Homo sapiens: one gene and its partners. The protein of the gene in region 3 purifies or fractionates together with the protein of the main gene of each other region. This does not show direct contact. Each region holds a gene or a part of one and is shown on either strand. Other genes may lie near its edges.

Region 1 (3,831 bases), on a different chromosome or scaffold from region 3:
CTCGGCTGCTGATCTTTTCCAAAGTCCTAGTAATTTCATTATGGAGTTTGTCCAAAAATCCCTAGAAATTCCATGGAATTTGCAGATAGAAGAACTCACAAACATATTTTTTCAAAAATATTAAAAATGGGTTACATCTCAATCCATTCTACAAATAATCAACTACATGTGCAAAAGAAGACAGCTTGAAATTTTCAATAGCACAAAATATCTGTGATGAGAAATATTTTAACCACACTTAGAAGAGTTTTAGAATAAAAATGCACCTGGCAGTGTTAGTCAATTCATTTGTCATTATACATACCATAAAATTTATGTGACTATAATTAGCATTATATAACATTCACAATCAAAGTAAGGGAATAACGTGAGTTTCCTATAGCACGATTCAAAGGTGACTGAAATATTCCAGTTGGAAATAGATCCCTAAGCCTATAGCTCTAGCCTGGGACACATAACTTTTCAGTCTAGCTTTGCTTCTTTGTGACATTCTCCAAAGTCCTTGTTTCTGGCAGGACAGCAAGCCTGCGGAGGCTGTAAGTTCTAGACCTTGCTGGTCTGGTGTTCTTTCCTCCTTTAAGATTCAGAGAGGAAAGGATGATGAAATGTTTCTCTCTAATATATGTATTATCTATATATTATACATATATATCTTATATATATACATATATATAGCTTTTATTAATATGTAAGTTAGCTTTCTTTAGTTGGTTTAAATGTAAGGTCAGTTGAAATGTAACACGGTACATTCAATTAGTAAGTTCCTTAAAGGCAAAAATTGTGTCTTTTTATTCTTTCATGTTCTCTTATAACAGGTGTTCCACAGATGAGTAAATGTACATTGATTCACGTAAAGTAATTCATATACCTTGGTCTCCTTTAGAGCAGATTCAATTCCACTTCTGTGCTGGTGCATTTGGTCAACATGGATTCTCCAATCCTACAGGCATAGAGCACATAGAAATAATGTAAAAAATACTACATTTCCATCTTTCCCTACTTCTTGTGAAGTTGTAACCTTTAATTACTTTGGTTCCTGCCCTATTTCAGGTGGGATAGCCCTATTTATAGCTTGCAATCAGATTATAAAGAAATATGTGTAGAGCACTTTAGGATAAAAGGTTCTAAATAAATGTAAATTATTTCACGTGTTCACAGAGTGATGTCTGACAATTTAAATTATTCCTGCACTGCTGGTGGTTAATATTTATGACTACCCATTAAAATGAAAAAAAAATTCTAATTACTAGAAAAGAACTACTTGTTTAAGCAGTAACAATTATGTTTGCCAAAAGCAATTCTGAACTCAAATATCATATATCAAAGATTAGTTTGTCCCTTGGAAATGAAAATGGGGCCCTCATCTTCATGAAGCCTTTTGAGTCCCTTTCTTAATAAAGGAAGTTTATAATGATTACTGGAGTTCATGTATTTTAAAATATCATCTATTACTACTAGACTGATCTGAATTAGTGTGCAAATTTGAAATCTACATCAACATTTTAATTTCCTACAAAATATATTAAAAATATTTCAGTTTACTACAAAGTAATAATTTTTTATTTTATTTTACTTTAAGTTCTGGGATACATGTGCAGAATGTGCAAGTTTGTTACATAGGTATACTATGTGCCCTGGTGGTTTACTGCACCCATCAACCTGTCATCTAGGTTTTAAGCCCTGCATGCATTAGGTATTTGTCCTACTGCTCTCCCTCCCCATCCCCCATCCCCCAACAGGCCTGGGTGTGTGATGTTCCCTTCCCTGTGTTCATGTGTTCTCATTGTTCAACTCCCACTTATGAGTGAGAACATGCGGTGTTTGGTTTTCTGTTCCTGTGTTAGTCTGCTGAGAATGATGGCTCCCAGCTTCATCCATGTCCCTGCAAAGGACATGAATTCATTCTTTTTTATGGCTGCATGGTATTCCACAGTGTATATGTGCCATACTTTCTTTATTCAGTCTATCATTGATGGGGATTTGGATTGGTTCCAAGTCTTTGCTATTGTAAATAGTGCTGCAATAAACATATGTGTGCATGTGTCTTTACAGTAAAATGACTTAAAAACCTTTGGGTATACACCCAGTAATGGGATTGCTGGGTCAAATGGTATTTCTGATTCTAGATCCTTGAAGAATTGCCACATTGTCTTCCACAATGGTTGAACTAATTTACACTCCCACCAACAGTGTAAAAGTGTTCCTATTCTCCACATCCTCACTAGCAGCTGTTGTTTCCAGACTTTTTTGATCACCACTCTAACTGGCATGAGATGGTATCTCATTGTGGTTTTGATTTGCATTGTTCTAATTAACAGTGGTGATGAGCTTTTTATCATATGTTTTTTGGCCACATAAATGTCTTCTTCTGAGAAGCGTCTGTTCATATCCTTTGCCCACTTTTTGATGGGTTTTTTTTTTCTTGTAATTTGTCTAAGTTCCTTTAGATTCTGGATACTAGACTTTTGTCAGATGGATAGATTGCAAAAATTTTCTCCCATTCTCTAGGCTGCCTGTTCACTTGGATGATAGTTTCTTTTGCTGTGCAGAAGCTCTTTAGTTTAATTAGAGGCCATTTGTCAATTTTGACTTTTGTTGCCATTGCTTTTGGTGTTTTAGTCATGAAGTCTTTGCCCATGCCTATATCCTGAATGGTATTGCCTAGGTTTTCCTCTCAGGTTTTTATGGTTTTAGGTTTTACATTTAAGTCTTTAGTCCATCTTGAGCTAATTTTTGTATAAGGTGTAAGGAAGGGGTACAGTTTCTGTTTTCTGTATATGGCTAGCCAGTTTTATCCCTGATGAACATCAATGTGAAAACCCTCAATAAAATACTGGCAAACCAAATCCAGCAGCACATCAAAAAGCTTATCCACCATGATCAAGTCAGTTTCAGCCCCAGGATGCAGGCTGGTTCAACATACACAAATCAATAAATGTAATCCATCACATAAACAGAACCAGTGACAAAAACCACATGATTATCCCAATAGATGCAGAAAAGGCCTTTGATAAAGTTCAACACTCCTTCATGCTAAAAACTCTCAATAAACTTGGTATTGATGGAACATATCTCAAAATAATAAGAGCTATTTATGACAAACCCATAGCCAATATCATACTGAATGGGCAAAAGCTGGAAGCATTCCCTTTGAAAACCGGAAAAAGACAAGCATGCCCTCTCACCCCACTCCTATTCAACATAGTATTGGAAGTTCTAGCCTGGGCAATCAGGCAATAGAAAGAAATAAAGGGTATTCAAATAGGAACTGAGGAAGTCAAATTGTCTCTGTTTGCAGATAACATAATTGCATATTTAGAAAACCCCTATGTCTCGGCCCCAAAACTCCTTAAGCTAATAAGCAACTTCAGCAAAGTCTCAGGATACAAAATCAATGTGCAAAAATCACAAGCATTCCTATATGCCAATAATAGACAAGTAGAGAGCTAAATCATGAGTGAACTTCTATTCACAATTGCTACAAATAAAATAAAATATCTAGGAATACAACTTACAAGGGATGTGAAGGACCTCTTCAAGGAGAACTAAAAACCACTGCTCAAGGAAGTAAGAAAGGCCACAAACAAGTGGAAAAACATTCCATGCTCATGGATAGGAAGAATCAATATCATGAAAATGGCCATACTGCCCAAAGTAATTTATAGATTCAATGCTTTTCCCATCAAGCTACCATTGACTTTCTACCCAGATTAGAAAAAACTACTTTAAATTTCATGTGGAACCAAAAAAAAAAACCCCATACAGCCAAAAAAATCCTAAGCAAAAACAACAAAGCTGGAGGCATCATGCTACTTGACTTCAAACTATGCT
Region 2 (3,831 bases), on a different chromosome or scaffold from region 3:
GCCCGGGAGTGGGGGTGACTGGCGCAGCAACTTCTCTCGTTCCTGGAGAGAGGCCACAATGTGGCGCGACAGATTGTCGTAACGGACTGGTGAGGGCTCTCGGTGTGTTGGGCCAGTTGGCACCAAACGTGGGTGCCTCTCAGCTTCCCGTTGCTGGGCCAGCCTGGCTGACAGGAAGGGAGAGGTATAGCCTAAAGGTGGGTCTGGCTCAGGCCCTGCCTGCACTGACTCAAAATCAGGGCTGTCTGAAGGTGTGAGCAAGCTGTCATAAGATAGGCTTCCATTGCGTGTCTGGTTGGCCAGGCTCTTATAGGAGGTGGAGGTGGTGCCCTCTGAACGAATGGATTGCAACTGGCCCAGCTCAAAGCCTGTGCCCTGGGCTGACTTGAGGCTGGAGGAGCGTGAGCCACTGGATAGTGGATCGAAGTGAAAACTTTTGCCAAAGGTAGGAGAACGGAAGCTCTCTGGTTCCAAGCTGGGCTCTGAGCGGTAGCTGGGGTGACGGCTGCTCTCTGCAATTGAGGTTGGCTCCTTCAAGCTGTCCCCACGACTCAACTGAGGAAGAAAGTAAAGCAGGCTCTTAGTGCTCCTTTTGTGACAGAAGCTAGACCCCAGAGCTCAAGGAGTTGGTCAAAAAGAGAATTATGTGCCAATAATAAGCTTAGAACTCTTACATGCATTATCTGGGTTAATCCCTCAAGAAAAACTGAATTCAGGCAAATATCATCTCCTTTTCAGATACAGAAAGCAAGACGTAGAAAGGCTGAGTATCTCGCCCGTGGGCAGAACTGGGTTATAAACTCGGATCAAGCACTAATCTATTATGCTATATTGCCCAGTCTGATGAAGGACACAGTATCAAGGAGATTGAGTTCCACGAATGCCAACAATTAGTGAAATGTCCTTTCTTCTGCCTTTTCCTTCCCCTAATCTTCTTTTTTTCCCGTAACAGTTGGCATTTGTTTGTGTGTGTGTGTGTGTGTGTGTGTGTGTGTTTTAAGCCCAGGCTGGAGCGTGATGGTGCAATCTTGGCTCACTGCAACCTCAGCCTCCCAGGTTCAAACGATTCTCCTGCCTCAGCTTCCCGAGTAGCTGGGATTACAGGCGCCCCGCCACCACGCCCAGCTAATTTTTGTATTTTTAGTAGAGACAGGGTTTCACCAAGTTGGCCAGGCTGGTCTCAAACTCCTGACCTCGGGTGGTCCGTCTGCCTCAGCCTCCCCAAGTGCTGGGATTACAGGCTTGAGCCACTGTGCTTGGCCTTTTTTTTTTTTTTTTTTTTTTTGAGGTGTAGTCTCACTCTGTCACCAGACTGGAATACAGCAGTGGGAGCTCAGCTCACTGCAGCCTCCACCTCCCAGGTTCAAGCAATTCTCCTCCCAGGTTCAAGCGATTCTCCTTGCCTCAGCCTGCCAAGTAGCTGGGACTACAGATGCATACCACTACCAGCTAATTTTTTTTTTTTTTTTTTGAGATGGACTCTCACTCTGTCACCCAGACTGGAGTGCAGTGGCGCAATCTCGACTCACTGCCACCTCCACCTCCCAGATTCAAGTGATTCTCCTGCCTCAGCCTCCCGAATAGCTGGGATTACAGGTGCCCCCCCACCACGCCCAGATAATTTTTGTATTTATTTATTTATTTTTTTTTTGAGATGCGGTCTCGCTCTGCTGCCCAGGCTGGAGTGCAGTGGCATGATCTCGGCTAACTGCAAGCTCCGCTTCCTGGGTTCACGCCATTCTCCTGGCTCAGCCTCCCGAGTAGCTGGGACTACAGGCACCTGCCACCATGCCTGGCTAATTTTTTTGTATTTTTAGTAGAGACGGGGTTTCACCATGTTAGCCAGGATGGTCTCAATCTCCTGACCTCGTGATTCACCTGCCTCAGCCTCCCAAAGTGCTGGGATTACAGGCGTGAGCCACTGTGCCCGGCAATTTTTGTATTTTTAGTAGAGATGGGGTTTCACCACATTAGCCAGGCTGGTCTCGAACTCCTGACCTTGTGATCCACCAGTCTCGGCCTCCCAAAGTGCTGGGATTACAGGCGTGAGCCACCACGCCTGGCCTAATTTTTGTATTTTTAGTAGAGACGGGGTTTCACCATGTTGGCCAGGACGGTCTCAATCTCTTGACCTTGTGATCCACCCACCTTGGGCTCCCAAAGTGCTGGGATTACAGGAATGAGCCACTGTGCCTGGCCAGTTGGCATGTTATTACCCCACCTCTTAGAGTACTCAGTACCTTGGCGCTGGAGGAATGCGGCATGGCAGCTGACGTACTGCTGCTACTGTAACCCGGCCGATACTTGTACATGGTAGGTGTCGGGGGGCTGTCCTTGGCCAATAAGCTACTATCTGCAAGAAAAAAGGCCAAGGGGGCACTATTTTACAAGCGGTTTTTTGGTTTAAGAGACAGGGTCTCACTCTACTGTCCAAGCTAGAGTGCAGTGGCACGATTATAGCTCACTGGAGCCTTGAACTCCTGGGCTCCCACCTCAGCCTCCTGAGTAGCTGGGACTGCAGGCATATGCCACCATGCCCAGCTAACTTTTTTAAATTTTTTGTAGAGACAGAGTCTTGCTATGTTGCCCAGGGTGGTCTTGAACTCCTGGGCTCAAGCAATCCTCCTGCGTTGGCCTCCCAAAGTGCTGGGATCACAGGTGTGAGCCACTGCGTCTAGTCTATGAGTTGTTCACTTTATCTGCCTAGGGTTCCTTAAGTACAGGGAGAGGACAAGGTAGGAATAGATATACCCTTCGCTGAAATCAAGACTTTTAAAGACTCACACCAGCCCAGAATTCAGGGTGGGTAAATGCACCAAAAAGGTTCTGTGATGTTCTCTGGTCTGCCTAGAGGCTGACCATTTTCCCGGCAAAAGTCCCATTCACTGCCAATAGCTAAATGGCCTCTCTTCTCTTTCAGTTGCAAAGTAGCACAAGTACCAACTGTTGGGTGTTTAAAGTCACAACACGAGTAATATCTCCCAGCCCTTGCCTGTCTTCCACAGCTCATAAGCAACCTTCTCAATCCTGCCCCTAGTTCTAGTATCTTGCAAATCAAGGCAGCCCTTACCCTCATTAGTAGCCAAGCCGAGGTGTGTTCGCAACCCTGTGTAACGGCTCAGGTCTGGCTTAGGAGGAGGTGGAGGTTCAGCATCTGCAGACTGGCTCTCTGTTATCTCCAGGCTTCCCTTAGACTGGATTGATGAAGGGAGGGAAAATCAGATTTAGAAATTGAGCATTATGGCAACTCAAAGTATTAAATTGATATAAGAGGGAGGTATTTGGGAGTCAATTCTCATGTATTTTTTTTTTTTTTTTGAGACAAGGTCTCACTCTGTTGACCAGGCTGGAGTACAGTGGTACGCATGATCATGTTCACTGCAGCCTGCAACTCCTAGGCTCAAGTGCTCTTCCCACCTCAGCCTCCCAAGTAGCTGGGATTACAGGCACATGCCACCACACCCAGTTAATTTATTTTACTTTATTTTGTAGAGATGGGGGTCTCGCCATGTTGCCCAAGCTGGTCTTGAACCCCTGGCCTCAAGCAATATCACCCCACCTTGGCCACCCTAAATGTTGGGATTATAGACATGAGCCACTGCCTATCATATATTTCTCAACTATACTGGAAGACAAGGCACAAGAATCAGTTTGGGTATAGCATTAGATGAAGAAAAGTTGGGTTTTTTTTTTTGAAATGGAGTCTTGCTCAGTCACCCAGGCTGGAGTGCAGTGGCGTGATCACGGCTCATTGCAACCTCTGGCTCGCAGGTTCAAGCGATTCTCATGCCTCAGCCTCCCAAGCAGCTAGGATTACAGGCATGTGCCACC
Region 3 (4,163 bases):
CAGCCGAATGTCTCTGGGAATGAAAGGGGGAGGGAGTGTGATTCTGCCATTAAGGGTCATTTGGGCAGGCTGTGGAAAAGGTTTATTTCTCCTAGGCCTTGAAGGGTGAGTCAGTGTTTGCTGTACAGAATGGGATGTCAGGGGCAGCACAGACACAGAAGCACAGCGGTGGGAGGGCGGTGGGAGGGCTGTGGGCGGTACCAGGCTTGCATGGTGTGGTGTCCTTAGACCTCAGCAGGGAGCAGGCAGGAGCTGAGGCTGACTTCAGGTGGGTGCCTGAGAGCGCTGGCCTGAGAAGCTTGGTCTTGTAAGCAGTGGGCTTCCTAGGAGGGTTGCAGGTGGCACTGCTGAAATAGAGGAAATGCCTGCCCTAGGGCAGTGGCTGCAGAGGCCGGGTCCCGTGGGTGGGTTGGGAGATTTAGGGTGGGTGACTAGATAGAGCAGGTGCCAGTTTGAGGAGGAAGATGAGTTCTGTCCCTGCAAGACGAGGCTTCAGTGATGCCTCAGGGACAGCCACATGTTGATGCCTGGGAGGCAGCGGTCTCCTTGGTCCAAAAGGCTGGAGAGAGGACAGGATTGGCCGTGTGAGCCACGGGGCAGGAGTGTATGGGAGGGGGTGGGGTCAGAAACAGGAGAGGCTGGGCCTAGGCACTCCCCTGCAGCCCCCCTGCAGCCCAGGACCACAGCTCAGGAGGGATGGAAGAGGATGGAGCTGGAGAGGGAGGGGCAAGGGCACTGTGTGGGGTCAGAGAAGAGGAGAGGAAGAGGGGAACTGCTGCTGGGAAGCTAGGTGTGTTAGGGCCGGAGGAGACCCTCGGGCTTGGCTTGAAGGGTGGCTTTGGTGACCCTGGGGAGAGTGGTTTGGGACATGGGTTCAGGTGCAAGCCATACCACAGTGGGCCAGGGAACAGTGGCTGGGAGGGGCGGCTGGGTGTGGAAGTGGCCTGCAGGTGCACGGAGGGCGAGGCGCGACCGTGAGGCTGGGACTCTCGAGGGCATGCAGATGCCTTTCCAGAAGGCACGTGTCCCCGTGTGGGGTCAGGCGGACAGCCCCGCCGACCAGCGAGGCTGCCTGATTCTGACCCGTTCTTGTCACCCGCAGAGCTGCCATCAGTCATGCTCTTAAACGGGGACTGCCCAGAGAGCCTGAAGAAGGAGGCGGCGGCGGCCGAGCCACCCAGGGAAAATGGGCTTGACGAGGCCGGCCCGGGAGATGAGACCACCGGCCAGGAAGTCATTGTCATTCAGGACACGGGCTTTTCTGTGAAGATCCTCGCCCCTGGGATCGAGCCCTTCTCCCTGCAGGTAAGATGGAGGAACGGGTGCTGGGGGCCAGGCCTGAGCCTGCTGGGGAGGGTGAGCTGGAAAGCTCAGCCTTGCTCGTGCTCCTACCGGCCCCATTTTGTGGCAGGAAACTGAGGATCCCGTGCCCTCCCTAGAGTCACTCAGCTAGCGTGGTGGACGTGGGAATCGAGCCCAGGGTCAGGTCGTTGCCCCATTGCTAGAGGACAGCAACCAGCTGGGCCTGCCAGCCCTATGTGGGGAGGGGAGTGATAGTGGCTGGGAAGTGTTGGCATCCCAGGACTCCCCAGCCTCTTGCTCTGTGCCCTCAGGCAAGTCACCTCTCTCTGGGCCGTGATTTTACCATCTGCCAGAGGGGAGGGTAGTATTGGGTTATCTCCAAGGGCAGAGCCAGCGTGGAGGTCTTGCAAGCCGGTGACTCAGTGGGGAACGAGACAGGGTCGTCGTATGTCTCGGCACCCGCAGGCTTGGGCCCCAGAGCACCCCTTCTGGAAGGGGAAAGCCATTTGCCCCAGGCACCTTAGCACTGGGCAAGGCCGGGGGCGAGCCTGCCGTCTTCTGTCCCGCTGTTCTTCATCTCCCTTCTCTGCTCGGGCATTGCTCTGGGTCTGCAGGCCGAGTCGGTGGGCCAGGCTCCAGGCTGCACACACAGGGCATGGCATGTGTGGACATGGCCTGGATTTAAAAGCCAGAAAGTGGGATAGCCGATATTCGAGTATTTGGGGCATTTATTCTGGGGACCAAGGTACTTTGGGCTGGGGACAAGGGGATATTGTCCTTGCTGTCCGCTACGTGGCCTCTCACCGGGGCGGTTGGGGCCTTCTCTCCCCGCTACGTGCTCTCTCACCGGGGTGGGCGGGGCCTTCTCCCTGCAGGTGTCCCCCCAGGAGATGGTGCAGGAGATTCACCAGGTGCTCATGGACCGGGAGGACACGTGTCACCGCACCTGCTTCTCACTGCACCTGGATGGCAACGTGCTGGACCACTTCTCGGAGCTGCGCAGCGTCGAGGGGCTGCAGGAGGGCTCTGTGCTGCGTGTGGTGGAAGGTTGGTCTGGAAGTTGGACAGCCTGCCCGGGGGAGGGCCCACGGAGGCAGAGGCAGGCAGCACCATCCATGCCAGGGTCCCTGTGTCACGGATGAGCTCATGGAGGCAGGATTGGAGCACAGATCTGCTTCTCAGGCCAGCACACCTATATCTGCCAACTTCACGGCCCATGGGTTAAAGAACAGAGCCGTGGGCTGGGCATGGTGGCTCACGCCTGTAATCCCAACACTTTGGGAGGCCAAGGCGTGTGGATCACCTGAGGTCAGGAGTTGGAGACTTGCCTGGCCAACATGGTGAAACCCCATCTCTACTAAAAATACAAAAAGTTAGCTGCGCGTGGTGGCAGGTGCCTGTAATCCCAGCTACTCGGGAGGCTGAGGCAGGAGAATCACTTGAACCTGGGAGGCAGAGGTTGCAGTGTGCCCGGATCGTGCCACTGCACTCCAGCATGGGCAACAAGAACGAAACTCCGTCTCAAAAAAAAAAACAAAACAAAAGAACAGAGCCGTGATTCTAAAAAAAAAAAATCAGGCAGTACCATCCCAGGGCGTGAAGTCAGCGCAGTTCAGTTCTGTAGAGATCCATGAGAAGTCCCAAACGTTTCCTAGCCCTAGAGTGGGGAGGTCGGGCACGGGGAGGTGCCATCCGGTTGGTCTGTGGCCTCGAGTTTTCTGGGTAGAAGCTGCTTGGGTTCCACCCCAGGGCCTGTCCGCCTGTTGAGAGCAGTGACGGAAAAGGTCTGTAGCTCAACAGCGCCCACAGTTGATCACGGAACCTCTCCCCTCCACCAAAAGAACTGCCATTAAAATCCCATGAAACCACATAGGGGCAGTGTTGACATTGGGGGCCTTGGAAAGTCCTCAGGCCACCCCTACATGAGGCTGCCTCGGGAGAGCAGGGCAAGGCTGTGGTGTGGAAGTCCCACAGCTCCAAAAGCCCTGCCCAGCCGACACACTGGCGCACAAAAGCAGGCAGCCTTGTGGACGCCTGAGGCCTGTGTGTGCTTCAGAGGCATTTGGCAGAAAGTTCTTTATAAACAAAGATCCCTGCTCACCAGTAGGCAGAGTGTGTGTGTGTGTGTGTTTGTGGTGTCAAAACCAGAACTCCAGCTTATGTGTTCACAGTGGAATTTGAAAACGGAAACCTAAAGTTGAAAATTAAAACCACTGTGTTAGCACCTCCAAAACCTGTTTTGTGCTGGGCAGGTTGTTCAGGGTGCAGGGCCCTGGTAACGCCATACCCTCCCTGCCTTCCTGACAGAGCCGTACACGGTGCGTGAGGCCCGCATCCACGTGCGCCATGTCCGAGACCTGCTCAAGAGCCTGGACCCATCCGATGCCTTCAACGGGGTTGACTGCAACTCCTTGTCCTTCCTGAGTGTCTTCACCGACGGCGACCTGGGAGGTGCGGGAGGCACTGGGGCCGGGGATTGGGCCAAAGGGCGGGGAGCACGGAGGTGGGGGGCTGGAGAAGGGGCCGAGGGGCCTGGGCCTGAGGCACCCGGACCACGGCCATCAGGAGGTAGGGAGACAGCTGGCCCTGGGTGGCCCTGTGCTGACCACCAGCCTCGGGTCCCTCAGACAGCGGGAAGCGGAAGAAGGGCTTGGAGATGGACCCCATCGACTGCACACCACCCGAGTACATCCTGCCAGGGAGCCGGGAGCGGCCACTGTGTCCCCTGCAGCCCCAAAACCGTGACTGGAAGGTAGGATCCTGGGGGAGGGAGGAAGAGGGTCCCTGGCGGGGTGGAGGCCCCACACCAGAGGCCTGGCCCCTCAGACTCGGCCGCTCCCGAAGCCCTTGCAGTGCCTGAA
Region 4 (3,831 bases), about 26 Mb from region 3:
ATCGTCCTTGTACCATCTCCACTGGGGCAGCAACAAGACATGATATTTGAGGCCCGTTTAGATACCATGGCAGAGACAAACAGCATATCTTTAAATGGACCTTTGAGAACAGACGATCTGGTGAGAGAGGAGGTGGCACCCTGCATGGGAGACAGGTTTTCAGAAGTTGCTGCTGTATCTGAGAAACCTATCTTTCAGGAATCTCCGTCCCATCTCTTAGAGGAGTCTCCACCAAATCCCTGTTCTGAACAACTACATTGCTCCAAGGAAAGCCTGAGCAGTAGAACTGAGGCTGTGCGTGAGGACTTAGTACCTTCTGAAAGTAACGCCTTCTTGCCTTCCTCTGTTCTCTGGCTTTCCCCTTCAACTGCCTTGGCAGCAGATTTCCGTGTCAATCATGTGGACCCAGAGGAGGAAATTGTAGAGCATGGAGCTATGGAGGAAAGAGAAATGAGGTTTCCCACACATCCTAAGGAGTCTGAAACAGAAGATCAAGCACTTGTCTCAAGTGTGGAAGATATTCTGTCCACATGCCTGACACCAAATCTAGTAGAAATGGAATCCCAAGAAGCTCCAGGCCCAGCAGTAGAAGATGTTGGTAGGATTCTTGGCTCTGATACAGAGTCTTGGATGTCCCCACTGGCCTGGCTGGAAAAAGGTGTAAATACCTCCGTCATGCTGGAAAATCTCCGCCAAAGCTTATCCCTTCCCTCGATGCTTCGGGATGCTGCAATTGGCACTACCCCTTTCTCTACTTGCTCGGTGGGGACTTGGTTTACTCCTTCAGCACCACAGGAAAAGAGTACAAACACATCCCAGACAGGCCTGGTTGGCACCAAGCACAGTACTTCTGAGACAGAGCAGCTCCTGTGTGGGTAAGCGCCCCTATGTCCTTGCACCTCGTGAGTTCCATTACCCTGGACCTTCCCCTCCCATCCCTTCCCCTCCTTTTCTTTTCGTCATGTTCTTCTCTTTCTGCTGCAGCCGGCCTCCAGATCTGACTGCCTTGTCTCGACATGACTTGGAAGATAACCTGCTGAGCTCTCTTGTCATTCTGGAGGTTCTCTCCCGCCAGCTTCGGGACTGGAAGAGCCAGCTGGCTGTCCCTCACCCAGAAACCCAGGACAGTAGCACACAGACTGACACATCTCACAGTGGGGTAAGAAGGTTCCTCTCAAAGCTTGAGGGATCCCAGTGGGGATCCTTGGAATTTAAGCTGAGAAGCTGCCAGAGGGCAAAGGGGACTCCTATCACAGGCTTATACTTAGAACATTTGCAAAAGCTGAGAATCTGGGCAGTCACAATGGCTGATGCCTGTAATCCCACTGCTTTGGGAGGCCAAGGTGGGAGGACTGCTTGAGGCCAGGCATTTGAAACCAGCTTGGGCAACACAGCGAGATCCCATCCCTACAAAAGATTTTTAAAAAATCAGCTGGATATGGTTTTGCATGCCTCACTACTCAGGAGGCTGAGGCAGGAGGATCATTTGAGCCCAGGAGGCTAAGGCTGCAGTGAGCTATGATCATGGGCAAGACAGTGAAACCCTGTCTCTTAAAACAAAAAAGCTGAGGATCTGGAAAATCCCCTTAAAGCTGTGGGTAGTCACTCTACCCCTGGGGTACATCAGAACTTTCCAAAGGAGTGCAAGCAAGGAAACTTTTAAAGGAATTGGTTTTTAGATCATCATCTTCCACAAGTATTCTTTTTCTTCGTTTTTTGCATTGGTAGACTATATTTAATATTTTAAGAAAAATTATGAATAAGCCTAAAACATTTTTTAAAATAATTTTTAATTTTTGTGGTTACAGAGTTAGGTAAATATATTCATGGAGTCCATGAGATGTTTTGATATAGGCATGTGATGGTCAATAATCACATCATGGAAAATGGAAAATGGAGTATCTGTATCTGTCCCCTCAAGCATTTATCCTTTGTGTTACAAGCAATCCAATTATACTTTTAGTTTTTTTTTTTTTTTTTTTTTTTTTGAGACGGAGTCTCACTCTGTCACCCAGGCTGGAGTGCAATGGCCTGGTCTCGGCTCACTGCAACCTCTGCCTCCCAGGTTCAAGCGATTCTCCTGCCTCAGCCTCCTGAGTAGCTGGGACTACAAGCGCATGCCACCCCACCCGGCTAATTTTTGTATTTTTAGTAGAGACAGGGTTTCACTATGTTGGCCAGGCTGGTCTCGAACTCCTGCCCTCATGATCCACCTGCCTCAGCCTCCCAAAGTGCTGGGATTACAGGCGTGAGCCACTGCGCCTGGCCCCTGTTGTTTATGTGAAGAAGATTTCTCAGTGTTTACATCTGTCAGAATGGAAAGGAGTCAGCTGGCATAGTGGCTCACCCCTGTAATCTCAGTACTTTGGGAGGGTGAGGTGGGAGGATCGCTTGAGCTCAGGAGTTCAAGACCAGCCTGAGAAGTATGGTGAAACCTCATCTCTACAAAAAAATACAAAAATTAGCTGGGTGTGGTGGTGTGTGCCTGTAGTCCCAGCTACTTGGAAGGCTGAGGTGGAGGATCACTTGAGGCTAGGAGTTCAAGGCTGCAGTGAACTGAGATCTTGACACTGCACTCCAGCCTGGGCAACAGAGCCAGACCCTGCCTCAAAAAACAGAGTCACGAATTGTTGCTGAACTATTTCTTATTGCTGGAATTATAGTAATCCACAGATATACGAACTAATAAGGGGAAGGAATCTCCATCGATTTCATTAATAGGTGATTCCCAATTAAATTTTGCCGAGCATGTTTATTTTATTAGAAATTATATTACAGTGACTAATATACAACTGATTAAAAGATTTCTCTATCCTAAAGAAAGCTTTTTCACTTTAAAGCCTTCCGGTCAAAGGAATTTAAAGGAAATTTTAATTTAAATTTAGATGAACTTTCATTGTTGTTGCAGAGATGATGGTTAATAACAGATTTTATTTTTATTTTTTGAGATAGTTTCTTGGTCTGTCACCCAGGCTAGAGTACCATGTTGCGATCAGGGCTCACTGAAGCCTCAGCTTCCTTGGCTCAGGTGATCCTCCCACCTCAGCCTCCTGGGTAGCTAGGACTGTAGGTGTATGCCACCACACCTACCTAATTTTTTTGTATTTTTAGTAGAGATGGGGTTTTGCTATGTTGGCCAGGCTGTTCTCAAACCCCTGGGCTCAAGTGATCTGCTAGCCTTTGCCTCCCAAAGCACTGGGATTACAGGTGTGAGCCACTGTGCCCAGCTAATAACATACTTTAAAGCATAAAAATATATTACATTAGGCTGAAATTCTGAGAAAAATAAAAAATATATGTTCAAAGAGAAAAAGGGATGACATAATAAAATTTCTGACTGCTAAGAAGAGCTTTTTCTTGTATTTTTAAAAGATAGCAACTAGGTATCTCATCATTTTGGTGTATGTAGTATTTATGCCACTGGATATATTTAAGAGTAATCTAATAATTTTATTTTAGGCTGGGCATGGTGGCTCATACCTGTAATCCCAACACTTTGGGAGGCCGAGGCGGGAGGATCACCTGAGGTCAGGAGTTCAAGACCAGCCTGGCCAACATGGCGAAACCCCGTCTTTACTAAAAATACAAAAATTAGCTGGGTGTGGTGGAGGGCACCTGTAATTCCAGCTACTTGGGAGGCTGAGGCATGAGAATCGCTTGAACCCGGGAGGCAGAGGTTGCAGTGAGCCAAGATCGCGCCACTGCACTCCAGCCTGGAGGATAGAGTAAGACTCTGTCTCAAAAAAAAAAAAAATTATTTTAAATTGTCAATATTGGTAATATGCTGGACATTACAGCCTTTGCAACAATTTAAACTTAAGGGTACTTAGT

What was found.
Region 1: the proteins of CLUH (region 3) and IFT57 purify together in Homo sapiens (co-immunoprecipitation; one large-scale study listed by IntAct). This does not show direct contact.
Region 2: the proteins of CLUH (region 3) and ZDHHC5 purify together in Homo sapiens (co-immunoprecipitation; one large-scale study listed by IntAct). This does not show direct contact.
Region 4: the proteins of CLUH (region 3) and SPAG5 purify together in Homo sapiens (affinity purification with mass spectrometry; 2 studies listed by BioGRID and IntAct, with this or other methods). This does not show direct contact.

The regions. Positions count from the first base shown.
Region 1 is NC_000003.12:108,166,925-108,170,755, forward strand, and holds part of IFT57 (intraflagellar transport protein 57 homolog), read right to left. Parts: intron 941-3,831; coding exon 869-940; intron 62-868; coding exon 1-61. UniProt on the Homo sapiens protein: Required for the formation of cilia. Plays an indirect role in sonic hedgehog signaling, cilia being required for all activity of the hedgehog pathway.
Region 2 is NC_000011.10:57,695,283-57,699,113, reverse strand, and holds part of ZDHHC5 (palmitoyltransferase ZDHHC5), read right to left. Parts: intron 3,195-3,831; coding exon 3,071-3,194; intron 2,354-3,070; coding exon 2,241-2,353; intron 556-2,240; coding exon 1-555. UniProt on the Homo sapiens protein: Palmitoyltransferase that catalyzes the addition of palmitate onto various protein substrates such as CTNND2, CD36, GSDMD, NLRP3, NOD1, NOD2, STAT3 and S1PR1 thus plays a role in various biological processes including cell adhesion, inflammation, fatty acid uptake, bacterial sensing or cardiac functions.
Region 3 is NC_000017.11:2,701,504-2,705,666, reverse strand, and holds part of CLUH (clustered mitochondria protein homolog), read left to right. Parts: intron 1-1,102; coding exon 1,103-1,305; intron 1,306-2,177; coding exon 2,178-2,349; intron 2,350-3,609; coding exon 3,610-3,753; intron 3,754-3,929; coding exon 3,930-4,054; intron 4,055-4,146; coding exon 4,147-4,163. UniProt on the Homo sapiens protein: mRNA-binding protein involved in proper cytoplasmic distribution of mitochondria.
Region 4 is NC_000017.11:28,589,026-28,592,856, reverse strand, and holds part of SPAG5 (sperm-associated antigen 5), read left to right. Parts: coding exon 1-875; intron 876-984; coding exon 985-1,159; intron 1,160-3,831. UniProt on the Homo sapiens protein: Essential component of the mitotic spindle required for normal chromosome segregation and progression into anaphase. Required for chromosome alignment, normal timing of sister chromatid segregation, and maintenance of spindle pole architecture.